Linked DNA regions of Homo sapiens. The protein of the gene in region 2 purifies or fractionates together with the protein of the main gene of each other region. This does not show direct contact. Each region holds a gene or a part of one and is shown on either strand. Other genes may lie near its edges.

The links. Proteins that work in one complex are often made in the same cells at the same time.
Region 1: the proteins of FLVCR1 (region 2) and TMEM9B purify together in Homo sapiens (co-immunoprecipitation; 4 studies listed by BioGRID and IntAct, with this or other methods). This does not show direct contact.

Annotation. Positions count from the first base shown.
Region 1 is NC_000011.10:8,961,439-8,968,547, reverse strand, and holds the start of TMEM9B (transmembrane protein 9B isoform a precursor), read left to right. Parts: upstream 1-4,105; 5' UTR 4,106-4,234; coding exon 4,235-4,339; intron 4,340-6,364; coding exon 6,365-6,456; intron 6,457-7,109. UniProt on the Homo sapiens protein: Enhances production of pro-inflammatory cytokines induced by TNF, IL1B, and TLR ligands. Has a role in TNF activation of both the NF-kappaB and MAPK pathways.
Region 2 is NC_000001.11:212,882,259-212,889,280, reverse strand, and holds part of FLVCR1 (choline/ethanolamine transporter FLVCR1), read right to left. Parts: intron 5,911-7,022; coding exon 5,843-5,910; intron 3,989-5,842; coding exon 3,885-3,988; intron 1,391-3,884; coding exon 1,280-1,390; intron 793-1,279; coding exon 687-792; intron 136-686; coding exon 24-135; intron 1-23.

The DNA.
Region 1 (7,109 bases), on a different chromosome or scaffold from region 2:
GCCTGCCACCACGCCTGGCTAACTTTTTCTATTTTTAGTAGAGATGGGGTTTCACCATGTTGGTCAGGCTGTTCTTGAACTCCTGACCTCAAGTGATCTGACTGCCTCAGCCTCCCAAAGTGCTGGGATTATAGGCATGAGCCACCATGCGCCCAGGCTGGAGTGCAGTGGCATGATCTCGACTCACTACAACCTCCGCCTCCTGAGTTCAAGCGATTCTGGTGCCTCAGCTTCCGGAGTAGCTGGGATTACAGGTGCCTGCCACCACGCCCTGCTAATTTTTGTATTTTTAGTAGAGATGGGGTTTCACCATGTTGGCCAGGCTGTTCTTGAACTCCTGACCTCAAGTGATCTACCTGCCTTGGCCTCCCAAAGTGCTGGGATTACAGGCGTGAGCCACTGCACCTGACCTGTTTTCATTAAATATTCTAAGGTACTGGGAAATCAACAATATTGATTTAGCACCTCTAAAAGGAACTAAAAATTCTCCCCACTTTGGTACTCACCTGCACTGTGGTGTTTTATTTCAGGGAACCCAGTAACATCAGCAGTGGCACCAGCAGCTCTAGAAACATATTCTGTCCCCATAAATTGTTGTTATCATGGTGAACACCAGCAAGTGATGCACTTAGGTGGCTTTACAGGCAGCAGTAGGCTTTACAGTGGGCTGAAAAATCCCACTAAACAGGGCTGAGTAGGAGGGAGCATCCTAGTGGGTGCACACAATAAAGAAGAGGGCTCATAAGACGTTTCCAGAGTATGCTCAGAAATAACTGGAAGGATGTGTGTGTCCCCAGCCATAACCACTGGAGCCACAATACAAGGAAATCACCAATGTTGTGCATAACTCCATTTGTTCTCCTGGACTGGTGTTGCCTAGGCAAGTGCTGGGTAGATCAGAATGGATGGGGTGGAAGAATTAAGGGGCATCCAGAGAGCTATTTGATCACTGGAGGGGAAAGGGCATGGGGGGATGCAGACAGGTGGCAAAACCTGGGTCCAAGATATATTTGTCCCAGATATATAAATTGTCACTTTTCTCCCTCCCCTTCTGACTTGCACACTTACAAAGAAGGTTCCTCTTCCTTTTCTAACCATCCCCCACCAGGGAATTTTTCAGGCCTTACAAAGAAGGGAGAGGACCCAGGCCAGTTGGGAGGGTACACGTGGACCTACATCACTCTTTTTGAGGAAGTGAGTAGGGAAACCTAGTTATAAGGAAGCAAGGAAAATAGAGGGAGAGTGAGTACTAAGGCCAGCGCCGTCTATAAACAGAACAATTCCCGTGTGACCTGAAGGTCTAGGAAGACCCGAGGTGAGAAATCTTCACTCCCCTGCCTACTATGGTGCGCCGGATCCCGCCATTTGCACATCTTTGGGCATCTCAGCATCCCCTCTCATGGTCAGAAAGAAATCAAATGAGGATTCAAGTAGGTGCCTGATACTTTTCTTTTAGACTAACCAGAGGAGCCTCTCCCATTCCCCTTTTCCCTGGTCCCCACAAACATCATATTGTTTTAATCTGTCTCCAGGTATAACAATAATAAGACAAAGTCCTTACCCTCAGAGAGCTCACAATATTTTGGTGGAGGTTTGGGTATAAAGGCAAATGTGAAAACATAATTTTACTATAATGGGGTAAAGTTAAGAAAGAGATCTATGCAAACATAGAAAGGAGTGCACTTAAGTCAGTGAAGGTTTTCTGGCTTAGAAGAACCCTGACCTAAAGGAAAAGTAAGAGTTACCTAGATAAGAGCAGGGCAGAACAAGAGAAACTGATCCCTCCACTTCTATTGAGTCACCTGAAATTATATTCATTTTTTGGCAGACATATACCTCCCCCAAACATTCGGCTCTAGTTGTGCCAGTTCTTCCTTGTCAGCCCTCTTACCTTGGCCTGAGGCTTCATTGTCTCCAGTCAGGCGACTATCTCATAGTCACACTCCACTCACGGCAGCCACATTCTGTATTCCAGAACAGCACTTCCTGACAGCACTATAACATTTTCTAGCAGCCACATTTAAGAGGTCAAAAAACAAGTGAAATATTTTACTAATATATTTTATTTAACCCAACATATCTAAAATATTTAAACCATATTTTTAAATTACTGAAATATTTTACATTTTAAAAATATTGTCTTTGAAATTAAGTGTATATTTTATACAGCACATTTCAATTCAGTCTAGCCACATTTCAAATGCTCAATTGCCACATGTAGCTAGATAGTGGTTATACTATGGAGCTCTAAAATTCCGCCCAGACTGAGTGTGCTTGGTGTTTCTCCATTAAACAGATGAGGCCCATCAGTCTGAGGCACAACTATGTATTTTCTCTAAGTCTCTGTACCCCCAAGGCCTTGAAAACAATTCGGAAGGAAGAGAAGGCCTATGAGGTTTCAGCTACAGCAGGCACTCCCTTTAGATGCCAAGCCTAGAAAACCCTAAACTGATGCCTAACTTGCAGCTGAATCACCTTTCAGCAATCAGATTCAGTGCCTCACCAACACATTTGATCCAGGGAGTCTCCAGTTTGTCCTTTGTCCAGTAGAAGACCCACTACAAAGCCTTGATAATTCATCAAAGTGACAGCACCTTCACTGGGCAGTCTGGTGAGAGGACATCTAGCCCTGCCACCCTGGTTCCTGTTGGGAACAGTATCAGATACGTTGTGTTAGATTCACATGAATCTAAGAATCACATGGGCGAAAAATATTGAGAGCATTCTGTTAAAACATTTCCACAAATTGGGAAAAGACCATCTTTAAAAATCTGTTGGGGCCGGGCGCGGTGGCTCACGCCTATAATCCCAGCAATTTGGGAGGCCGAGGCGGGCGGATCACAAGGTCAGGAGATCGAGACCATCCTGGCTAACACAGTGAGACCCTGTCTGTACTAAAAATACAAAAAAAAAAAAAGAAAAAGAAAAAGAAAAAAAAAATTAGCCGGGCGGCGTGGTGGCGGGCGCCTGTAGTCCCACCTACTAGGGAGGCTGAGGCAGGAGAATGGCGTCAACCCGGGAGGCGGAGGTTGCAGTGAGCCGAGATCGCGCCACTGCACTCCAGCCCGGGGGACAGAACGAGACTCCGTCTCAAAAAAAACAAAAAAATCTGTTTACAGAGGTAAAAACACGGGTATTACATGGAGCATAATTTGAAATCCATTCCCTCATATTCAGCCAAGAACTACAGGCCCAGAGAAGGGAAGTGATTTGCCAAAGGTCATTCAACAAATCCCTAGGGGCTGTGATGATCCGTGTCCTTGCCATTACCTCCCTTGTCTCCACTAACAAAAATATTTCAATGGGAGAATGTGCCGATCTAAGGCACTCCTAAAGTACTTGCTGAGAATGACAGCCCTGGGGAGACAGGTCGGCAGCCCTGAACAGGCACTGCCTTACCCGGGCGTAGTGCCCCAATTCGCCACCTCTTGGAGTCCTAGGCGGAGGATACTACTGGGGCAGTTGTTTCGCCAATTCCACATCTCCCGGAGCCTGGCCTGGCCCAGCCCAGCCCCGTCGCTGTGACCCACTTCCTAGCTGCAGGCTGGACCAAGGGGAGGCACATGGGGAGCTCCACAGGGAGGCCACGCCCACGAGGGCAGCTCACAGAATTAGAAAGCCGACGGGGTGCTGTGGTCAGGAGGCGCGTGGGCGGCAGGTTAGTACTTAAGGTGCAGAGACCACCCCCAACCCTTTGACTGGCGGTGGGCATCCCGGAAAGGCATGGCTCGGCCAATTCCAGCCCCGTTTCCACGCTCAGCACCCGCCCTGCCTGTGCGCGAACGGCTCCGGCCCGCACGGGTCGCCAGAGGCGACTGTGTGACACTCGGAGTTTGCTGGGGTCTCCGTGGGCGGGAGGACTTTCCAGCGCAATGGCGACTCCCTAAGCCCCGCAGCTTCTGCGCCCGGGAAAGATATCCAAGAGATGCAAAGCTCTACTGGGCCCAGGCTGCCACCCCAGAGGCCCCCTTCCGTCCCGGGGCCGGGGCTAGGCCAAGGCGGGCACCAGGACTGCCCAGCCTCCCGGCCCTTCGCACTGGTAACCGGTTCCGGGGCGGATGCTTTTTGCATCTGACCCGGCGCGCCCGGTGACGCCTTCGCGTCCAGACGGAAGTGCGGGCGGAGGATCCCCAGCCGGGTCCCAAGCCTGTGCCTGAGCCTGAGCCTGAGCCTGAGCCCGAGCCGGGAGCCGGTCGCGGGGGCTCCGGGCTGTGGGACCGCTGGGCCCCCAGCGATGGCGACCCTGTGGGGAGGCCTTCTTCGGCTTGGCTCCTTGCTCAGCCTGTCGTGCCTGGCGCTTTCCGTGCTGCTGCTGGCGCAGCTGTCAGACGCCGCCAAGGTGAGTCCCGCCCAGCCTCGCTCCTGACGGAAGCTCCTCCCCTACCACCGGCCTTGCGGAAACTGGGTCTGCCAACCTGCTCCTTGGCCCATTCCTGACAGCCATACGCCTGGCCTCACAGCTCCGGCAGACCCCCGCCGCCACCAGCCCCGCCCCTCCCGACTGCCCGGCGGCACTCTCGCCCTCAGCCCCGACAGCCTGGCAGGCAGCGCCCCACGGTCGTCCCCAGCCCCGACAGTGCCCACAGTCCGGACAGCAGCCCCCCACCGCCTTAACATTTCCCTTCCCAGCCCCGGCTGCACGCATCTTACACTTGACAACCTTTTCACCTCCGAGAGCCTTTAACTTTCCACCCTAAGCTCTTGACAGCCCACCTGCGCCCTCCGCCAGCCTCACAGGCCCCGCATGCCCCAAGCCAGAATGATAGGAAGCCCCCATCTGACAGAGCCTTCCCTGTCAAGGGCCGACTCAGCTCAGCTCACCCCTGAACACTTCCCTTCCTGTGGTGGGAACTTGCCCCTCCTGGCCTACTTCCCTCCCAATAGGGCCTACGGAGCATCTCTCACCTGCTTCATATTCTCACCTAACTCCCTCCACGAGTCCCTTGGTGCCTTTCTTGCTTTCTCTCTTCCTGATAATTTAGTGGGTAAGGGAAGAACCAAACTGCAAGAGAGGTGAGGTTGTGGCCTCCCTGGTTCGATTTCTTGACCTTCTAGTTCCCTCATACTGTTCTCTGGTGCCCCAGCTCTCCAGACCTGCCCTAGCTCCATGCATACCTGTGCTTCCTCTTTGATGAGCTAGCTCATCATTGGGGGAGAACAGAAGGGATTCACATTAGTATGATGGGAAAACAGAATGACATTGCGTTTTTAAAAATAAGAGCTTTAATTTATAATATCTTTAAATGTAGGAGTGGGGAAAGGTTACAGGCAGGCAAATGTTTTTGATTCAGAGATTCTTTTTGAAACCATCTCTACCTCCTACCAGAAACAGGGACAGCAGCACGTCTCCTGACTTTGAAAACATTGCTGGCACCCTCTGCATATCTTGCCTCATAACTTTATGTATTGTGATCATGTATTTATTTTTCAGTCTCCTTTACTAGGGTGTGTCCTGGTTATGGGCAGAAACCATGTCTTATGCTTATCTGAATCCACCTTATTGAGCACAAGATCTAACACAGAGCAAATGCTCACTAAGTGGTTGCTGAATACGTTTGTGAATTGTCAATAGCTCTGCCAGACATATCACTGTATATAGGAGGAGTGGGCAAGGTCCTCTGGGGAATGATAAGCCACTTCCTTCTCAAACAGATTCCCCTTTGCTGAGGAAGCATCTCTTCTTTTCTCTATCCAGATACTTAGTCACCTGTTCCTCCACCTCTTGAAACTTGTTTTGTTGGTAGTTGTTCTGTCTGTCAACCAGGAATTAGAAGCAAAGTTTCCTGGGAAGAGTATACTAAACTGATCTCAGAGTCAGGCTACTTCCTGTGTGTACTTCCTTTCTAGTTGTAGGTGGGTGCCTCTAACATTTCATCCCTTCTACGGGACTCTGGCCCAACCCGTTTTATCAATGTCAGTGCCTTCTACCAGAGGGTGAAAGGATGATAGGTAGAATTGTGACCTTTTTTGTGAATAATTTTTAGTTTCTTTCCCATCCTTTAGTAATGAATATTCTTATTTACAGGCACAACTATCTGCTTACCATGTGTCTTTCTAGTGGCAGATAGATGGTAATAACATTAACATAATTTGATTGTCATGTGACCCATAAATATGGTTAATAAGTCTTAGATCATGTATTAGGTATTATTTCAAAATAACTACATGTAATATATAATGATTCATTGGCATTACCATAAAGGACTGTGGCTTTTAAAAACTGTGTCTGTTAAAGTTTTAAATGAATGATTTTAGAATACTTGGTATTCTAAAGAGGATGCTTGGCAAAATGTATATGGTACAGTTTTTAAAAATATTGATGATAAACTGTCAACGCACTATACTGTTTCCATTTTGGTTACAGAATTTCGAGGATGTCAGATGTAAATGTATCTGCCCTCCCTATAAAGAAAATTCTGGGCATATTTATAATAAGAACATATCTCAGAAAGATTGGTAAGTATCTGGATTACTGAATTACCTGTCACATTTGTTTCTGTGGTTGTCAGTGTTATCCCAGAATGTTCATCAAATGCATAGTTTTCTTTTTAAGTATTTCATTTGAAGCAAAAATGTGAAATTCTACTTCCATTTGAAAAAGTGAGAGTGAGGCCCTACGTGCATGATGCCTGCAGGCCTAAAGGTATACAGCCAAAACACTAAGACCCATGTAGGCAGAGTTTCATGGGAGCATATGACTGGGTTTGTGGCACCTAAACTACCCATAGCTATCTTGCTGTACTCCCTCAAGTTTTGGTGAGGGACCTTTCTCCCTCTTGCTTTTCAGTGGAAGGTTAGCAAGCCTCGTTTGTCTGGGTTATAATTTTTACAACTTGTAGGTTTTGATGATGTATTGCCAAGTATGGGAAGCTATGTTTAAAAGTGTCAGAAGGCTCAAGAAGAAGTGGAAATGAGCTATGTAGTCAGAGTTTCCCATTTGGTGTAAATGAAGAAGTTACAGTTGTGCCAAGATATTGACCTGTTCAGTCCTTGGGCAGTCAGGCAGGCCTGTGATGACTGGGGGATCCTGACTGACTAGCCACCAGCAGCCTTCTCTGCTTATCCCAGCAGACCTGACAAATAGCTTTTTCTACGTGTGCCATGAAGCA
Region 2 (7,022 bases):
GCCAGGCAAACGCCCTAATTTACCTGTTAATATGATGCCTATAAACATCCAGACACAGAGAAAAATGTTCCCTGCCTTAGGACCATAGTCTGATGTGAGCTTTCCTTGAGCCAATGTGAACAAAATTCCAAATATCTAAAATACAATAAGAAAAATCATTCGTTATTAAGTTAAATTATTTAAAGCAAGTATAAAGTTTTCACCAGAACTTTTCTTATTTTGGTTATATGATTTGGTTTCTAGAAACATTCATTGAAAAGTTGAATTGTTAAAACAAAAACCACGGTCAGGCTGGGTGCAGTGGCTCACACCCACTGTAATCCTAGCACTTTGGGAGTTGAGGTAGGCGAATTGCTTGAGCCCAGGAGTCCGAGACCAGCCTGGACAACATGGCAAAACACCATCTCTACAAAAAATAACAAAAAAAATTTAGCTGGGCATGCTGGTGTGCACCTGCAGTCCCAAAAACTCTGGAGGCAGAGGGGGGAGGATTGCTTGAGCCTAGGAGTTTGAGGCTATAGTTAGCCATGACTGCACTACTGCACTCCAGCTTGGATGGCTGAGCAAGACTCTGTCTCCAAAAAACAAAACAACAACAACAACAAATAAAACCATGGTCAAACTCATTACTCACTAGAATATCTGGTATAATAATCATCTCAGGTTTAGAGAAATCAGAGGTTTACCTGTGCAGAAGCATTAAGAAGACCAGATGAAGTACCTTCAGATTCAGGGTAAGTGATTTCAACAGCAAATTCAAAACCCAAAGGGAGGTAACCAGTCATGAAGAAGCTAGGAAAATAAATCCAGAATTACAGAAAGAACTACCAGAAAGTCACAATCACATACTGATGCAATCATTCTGCCTCTCGGGCTTATTCTAATGACCAAATAAGTGAATATTTTGAAGTTGCTATGTCAAAGTAAGGAACTATTATCATTGACCAATCAGCTCAAGGTTACAGAACTGGAAGCAACAAATACACATTTTTTTCTGAGAAAAATTTACTTCTAGTTTTATAAGTTGATTGTAACCAAATAAAGTTACACAGATTAAGTAAGGCTCATCCATTTTTTACCTATGGTATACCAAAAACCAATTTTAAATAATTTTTAATAGTTCTTAAGAATTACATGTTTATATGCATAGAATGAATCCTTTAAAGTTTAAAATATTGAAGAAACTTTGGATGAACTGAAAAAATTAAAGACCAGAGTAATAATACTTCAGAATTATAACAGCATGCTATCATTCCTCCTAAACACATCTGATACTTACCCAAGCACCCCTCCAGTAACAAACACGATGATAATATATCTAAGGTCCAATGTGAAAGTAAAGATAACCATTCCAATAAAAGACAAAATATAAACTATCAGAGTAGTCTGTCTAAAACAAAAACAACAAAGCTGTTAGTATTTTGTCTGATTCTCCTAGGAATACAAAAATCATCACTCTTACCTGTTCAGTAATGAATCTTTGTTTTTCAAAGTTCACCCCTTCTTGTCCATGGAAATATGTATCCACCAAAGCACAAATTTTAAAGCATTTTTAATTTAAGATTCAGCAGCACCAGAAAACCACACCATATCGAATGCTCAGATAGGATCCTTTTATAGGAATAAAATCATTTTTATGCCACCAAATGGGATAGTTCCCTATTCACATTTCAAGATTCAGATCAAATTCTACCTCTTCCAAATGCCTTCTGTAACGACACCAGTTTATAAGAGTCTCTCTTTCTTCCAAATTCCCTTATCATACTGGCACTATAAAACTTATGACATCTATTTTAGTTTGTTATATTATTTAACTTTTCACATGTGAATGCCTTATTTGCTCCATTTAGACCACAAACATCTTAAGAACAGGGATCACATAATGCCAGCCATAATTTTCATCTAAGAAAGATGCACACAACAGGAGTTTGGTGAATGAATGGCAGTTACCCTGAGAAGGAAGCCACAGTGGCAAAGAACACACATCTATGCCTATCAAGTTTTCTAAATGTATAACGGATGAAAGACTTAAGAAATATAATCCTTTACATATGCTCCCTTCATCTATATATCAAGTAGGTTTCACTCTAAGCTATCATTTTAAAATAATGAAGCTAAGGCAAGTGCTGTCTTAAATTATGGAAGAATATGGAGAATTTCAAGATTAGAGATACTTTTGGTAGCGTTTAGACTAATAATATCAAATATATCTTGAGCCTTGAAAGGTACACGGGACACAGTTCCATATTTCATTCATTTATTCCTTAATAGTTTCATTCATTCATTTCCAAGTACAGGGGTAAGTTTTGGCATGTTACAAAATGTGGTGATTCTTTTCACTCCCAGAGCAAAATATGCTGCCTCTGAAACCCCTTTCTTAGTCTCCCAGTTGGTATCATTCATTTTCTTTGGTATTAGCCTTTTGGTGGTTCCATATAATGTACAATTAACAGAGTATATTCTTTTTTTTTTATTTTTTTAGACAGCGTCTTGCTCTGTCACCCAGGCTGGAGACCAGTGGCACGCTATCTCAGCTCGCTGCAACCTCTGCCTCCTGGGTTCAAGCAATTCTCCTTCCTTAGCCTCCTGAGTAGCTGGGATTACAGGTGCCCACCACCACACTTGACTATTTTTTGTATTTTCAGTAGAGATGGCGTTTCACCATGTTGCCCAAGCTGGTCTCGAACTCCTGGCCTCAAGCAATCTACCCGCCTTGGCCTCCCAAAATGCTGGGATTACAGGCATAAGACATTGTGTCAAACCAGCATTTTCACATTATGCATTATATTACAGTTAAGTGGTACTGTAGTCTGGGCGTACTTTAGCCAAAAAGTTCTTACCAAAATAAAGCCTTATGCTCAACAATAATTTTTTGATTGGAAAGAACTACTTTTTTGTTTTTGTATTTAAGCCCACAACATAAAAAAAGAACAACATAGGCCAGGTGCAGTGGCTCATGCCTGTAATCCCAGCACTTTGGGAGGCTGAGGTGGGCAGATTGCCTGACCTCAGGAGTTCAAAATCAGCCTGGGCAACATGGTGAAACACTGTCTCTATCAAAAAGTCAAAAAATTAGCCGGGTGTGGTGGCGCACACCTGTGGTCACAGCTACTCAGGAGGCTGAGGTGGGAGAATCACTTGAGCCTGGAAAGCAGAAGTTGCAGTGAGCCAAGATGGTGCCACTGCACTCCAGCCTGGGTGACAGAGTGAGACCCCACCTAAAAAAAAAAAAAAAAAAGAACAAGATAAAGTCTATCAAAAGTCAAATATTTCTCAGAAATGGCTCTTTTTAGAATAGAAATAATTCCTTCGGAAGTGGTAGGTATGAGTACTGTTAGAAAGAAGGGGCTCATAAGGTATCCAAGTTCTCAGAATTGAAATAAATGTGACCAATAAAATAATACAATACATAGAGTATTGAAACACTTGTTGCTGGGCGCGGTGGCTCACGCCTGTAATCCCAGCACTTTGGGAGGTCGAGGCGGGTGGATCACAAGGTCAGGAGATCGAGACCATCCTGGCTAACAAGGTGAAACCCCGTCTCTACTAAAAATATAAAAAAATTAGCCGGACATGGTGGCGGGTGCCTGTAGTCCCAGCTACTCGGGAGGCTGAGGCAGGAAAATGGCGTGAAGCCGGGAGACAGAGGTTGCAGTGAGCCGAGATTGCGCCACTGCACTCTAGCCTGGGCGACAGAACGAGACTCCGTCTCAAAAAAAAAAAAAAAAAAGAAACACTTGTTAAGTGAAGAGAACCTACTAGTGTTTAGAATCCGTATCTTTAAGTAATAACATGTTTTAAATTTCTTGAAATAAAAAGCAAATTGTCCTTTAAAATCAAAATACCTTTGGTTATACACCATACATGTATTTACTTTCACTTACTTGTATGTTTTAGTATAATCCAGCCATAAGCCACAAAGAATAGAGCCCACCATTCCAGCTACTACTAGCGTTAGCCCAATCCTTCCAGCATTGACTTCTTCTCCCTGAAAAAAATTTGCGTAAGAAGTTGATCAAATAAATGGATTAACTAATTCAGACTCTTCACATTCCCACACCTTTTCATAGTCAATGAAAATAATTAGATAAAACTAAGCACACAGTAGGAAGATTTAGTACATGTGTCAGTGTGGGAGGGGAGGGCAGGTAAAGAATATATAAAAGCATTATATTTTAAAACCAGAAAAAAAGCCTAAAATAATAGAAGAAATAAAAAAGGTAAATTTTCCTTAATCCTCTATGGTTAGAAGTACAATGATTTTTGTTAGGATTCTTAAGTATAGATAGTCATGTGCTCCATAATTACATTTAGGTCAACTCTGAATCATATATACAGTATGATCCTGTAAGATTATAATACTGTATTTTTATTCTACCTTCTCTGTTTAGATATATTTAGATACACAATACTTACCATTGTATTACAACTGCCTACAACATTCAGTAGCATAACATGTTATACAGGTTTGTAGCCTAGGAGCAATAGGCTATACCACGTAGCCTAGGTATGTAGCAGGCTCTACCATCAGGTTTGCGTAAGTACACTCTATGATATTCACACAACAATGAAATTGCCTAGCGAATTTCTCAGAAGGTATTCCTGTCACTAAGCAAGGTATGACACTGTATAGATATCTGAAAAGGAGGTTAATCGATAGCTTTTACATAGTACAACTGCTTTATCCTTTCAAAAGCAGATACGTCAATCAAAACTTGATATTTATTTATCTATATTTATGCTGAGTTCCCTTAAAATGTTTTGTCTTTTTCCATATAACCAATCATATTATTTCCTAAAAATAAACTTAGGTATTGTCACAGGGATAGTAACTTCTGCTTTCCATATTGTGTGTGTGTGTATTTTGTTTTGTTTCGTTTTTTTGAGATGGAGTCTCACTCTGTCACTAGGCTGGAGTACAGTGGCGCTATCTTGGCTGGGATTACAGGTGTGAGCCACGGCGCCCAGCCTGTTTTTTTTTTAAATGGGGATTCACTCTTATTGCCCAGGATGGAATACAATGGCACGATCTCGGCTCACCGCCACCTCCACCTCCCAGGCTCAAGTGTTTCTCCTGCCTCAGCCTCCCGAATAGCTGGAATTACAGGCATGCGCCACCATGCCCAGCTAATTTTGTATTTTTGGTAGAGACAGGGTTTCTCCATGTCGGTCAGGCTGGTCTCGACCTCAGGTGATCCACCCGCCTCGGCCTTCCAAAGTGCTGGGATTACAGGCGTGAGCCACTATGCCTGGCCATACTATGTGCTTTATAAACTGGATTAAATATGTTAAATTAAAATGATGGGAGGCCATTGTTTTGGAGTGAGCTCCCACAGTAGGCCCAACAGACCAGACCACATAGAATGGTGTCACTAGTGCTAGGTGTCACATAATCAAACTGAACTTTAAAATGGGCCACTTTTCCAAAAAAAAAAAAAAAAGGAGATTCATAGCAACCTATCAGATGGGGCCCAGTCCCCTTTGTTTTACTCCTATAAGGAAAGTAACTTTGTAGCAACCAATCTGCTCTTTGTTCCTTGTTTCTGCTTTCTTCAGCCTTTTTCTGCCTATAAAGCCCATCTCCTCTGCTCAGCTCATCAGTACCTTTCTAAATCTTTAGATGGGATGCTGTCCAATAAACGAATTGATAATAAAAGCCAATTAGATATATAAAGTTGTGGAAATTTCATTTTTTAACAAATATATTCTCAATTAAAACAAATGTAAATATTTGATAGCAACAATGTCATAACCCTTAATCTCATGACCCTGCTAACGACAATTATATTGCTAAAGAAAAATTTTTGGCCAGGCATGCAATCTGATATAAGCAGAAGCTTACCTCATAATATGTCAATATCATTTGATTTAATAACGTTGAGACTGAATAAAAGGCACCAGTCATGATACCTACAATAATAAATAAAGATGATATTAAGTCATGATACCTACAATAATAAAGAGAATACTAAAAGTGTGTCATTTACCAGTTCATGAAGTGACATGGAATATTATGTGACAATTGTGGAAATACATTTCTTAACACAGTTGATAAAGGAAATTAAAAACCATTGTCATTCCCTTTCAGAACCTGGACTAATGAATTTAACACCTAACTGTACTAAAGATGTAATAGCAGAACTCTGTCCTAATACTATTATTATTTAGATTGAGATATACTGACCATAAATCATACCCCCACATGCAACACATATATGGCAACCAGTCAAGCAATGGATTGTTTACTGAATTCCTACAATGTACTACTACAGCCAACAAATGTGCAAAGCCTAACAGAAACTGTGCTTCAGAGATCTTACCTTTTTGTATCAAAGACTTACTGAAAATTCATAAGACAAAATCAGTTAATACTTTTTTTTTTGAGATGGAGCCTTGCTCTGTTGCCCAGGCTGGAGAGTAGTGGTGCAATCTCAGCTCACTACAACCTCCGTCTCCTGGGTTCAAGCAATTCTACTGCCTCGCCTCCCAAAGGATACTTTAGAAGTGAACAATAAAAACAACTGGCTATGAGAAGCACAGGATAGGTTTGAATCCTGATGTCTCCTAGCATGTATTGTATGAATTTAGGTAAGACTCTTAACCTAAATTAAGCTAAAACTTAAGTTTATTATTTATCTATTATTAAATATTTTAAGAATATAAAATAGCATAGAGAATACAACAAATATCCTCATATATCACCCGGATTTGGCAAACATTAACATTTTTCCATCTTTGCTTCAGATTCATTTTTCAGACTTTTCCCAATCCTATTCTTTACCAAAGTCAAGCCCTAGCTTGAGCTTGGTGCTTATCATTTTATATATTACCATATATGCATATTCATAAACAATTAGAAGTATTCTGTAAGTATATAAATATTATTTGTATCCATCTGCAACTTGCTCTTGTTACACTATATTGAGATGGTTTTGAGATGTATCCATGTTGATATTTTTTGTTGTAGTTCATTAGTTTTCTGTTGTACAGTATTCTATTATGTTAATATACTTCAATTTAAT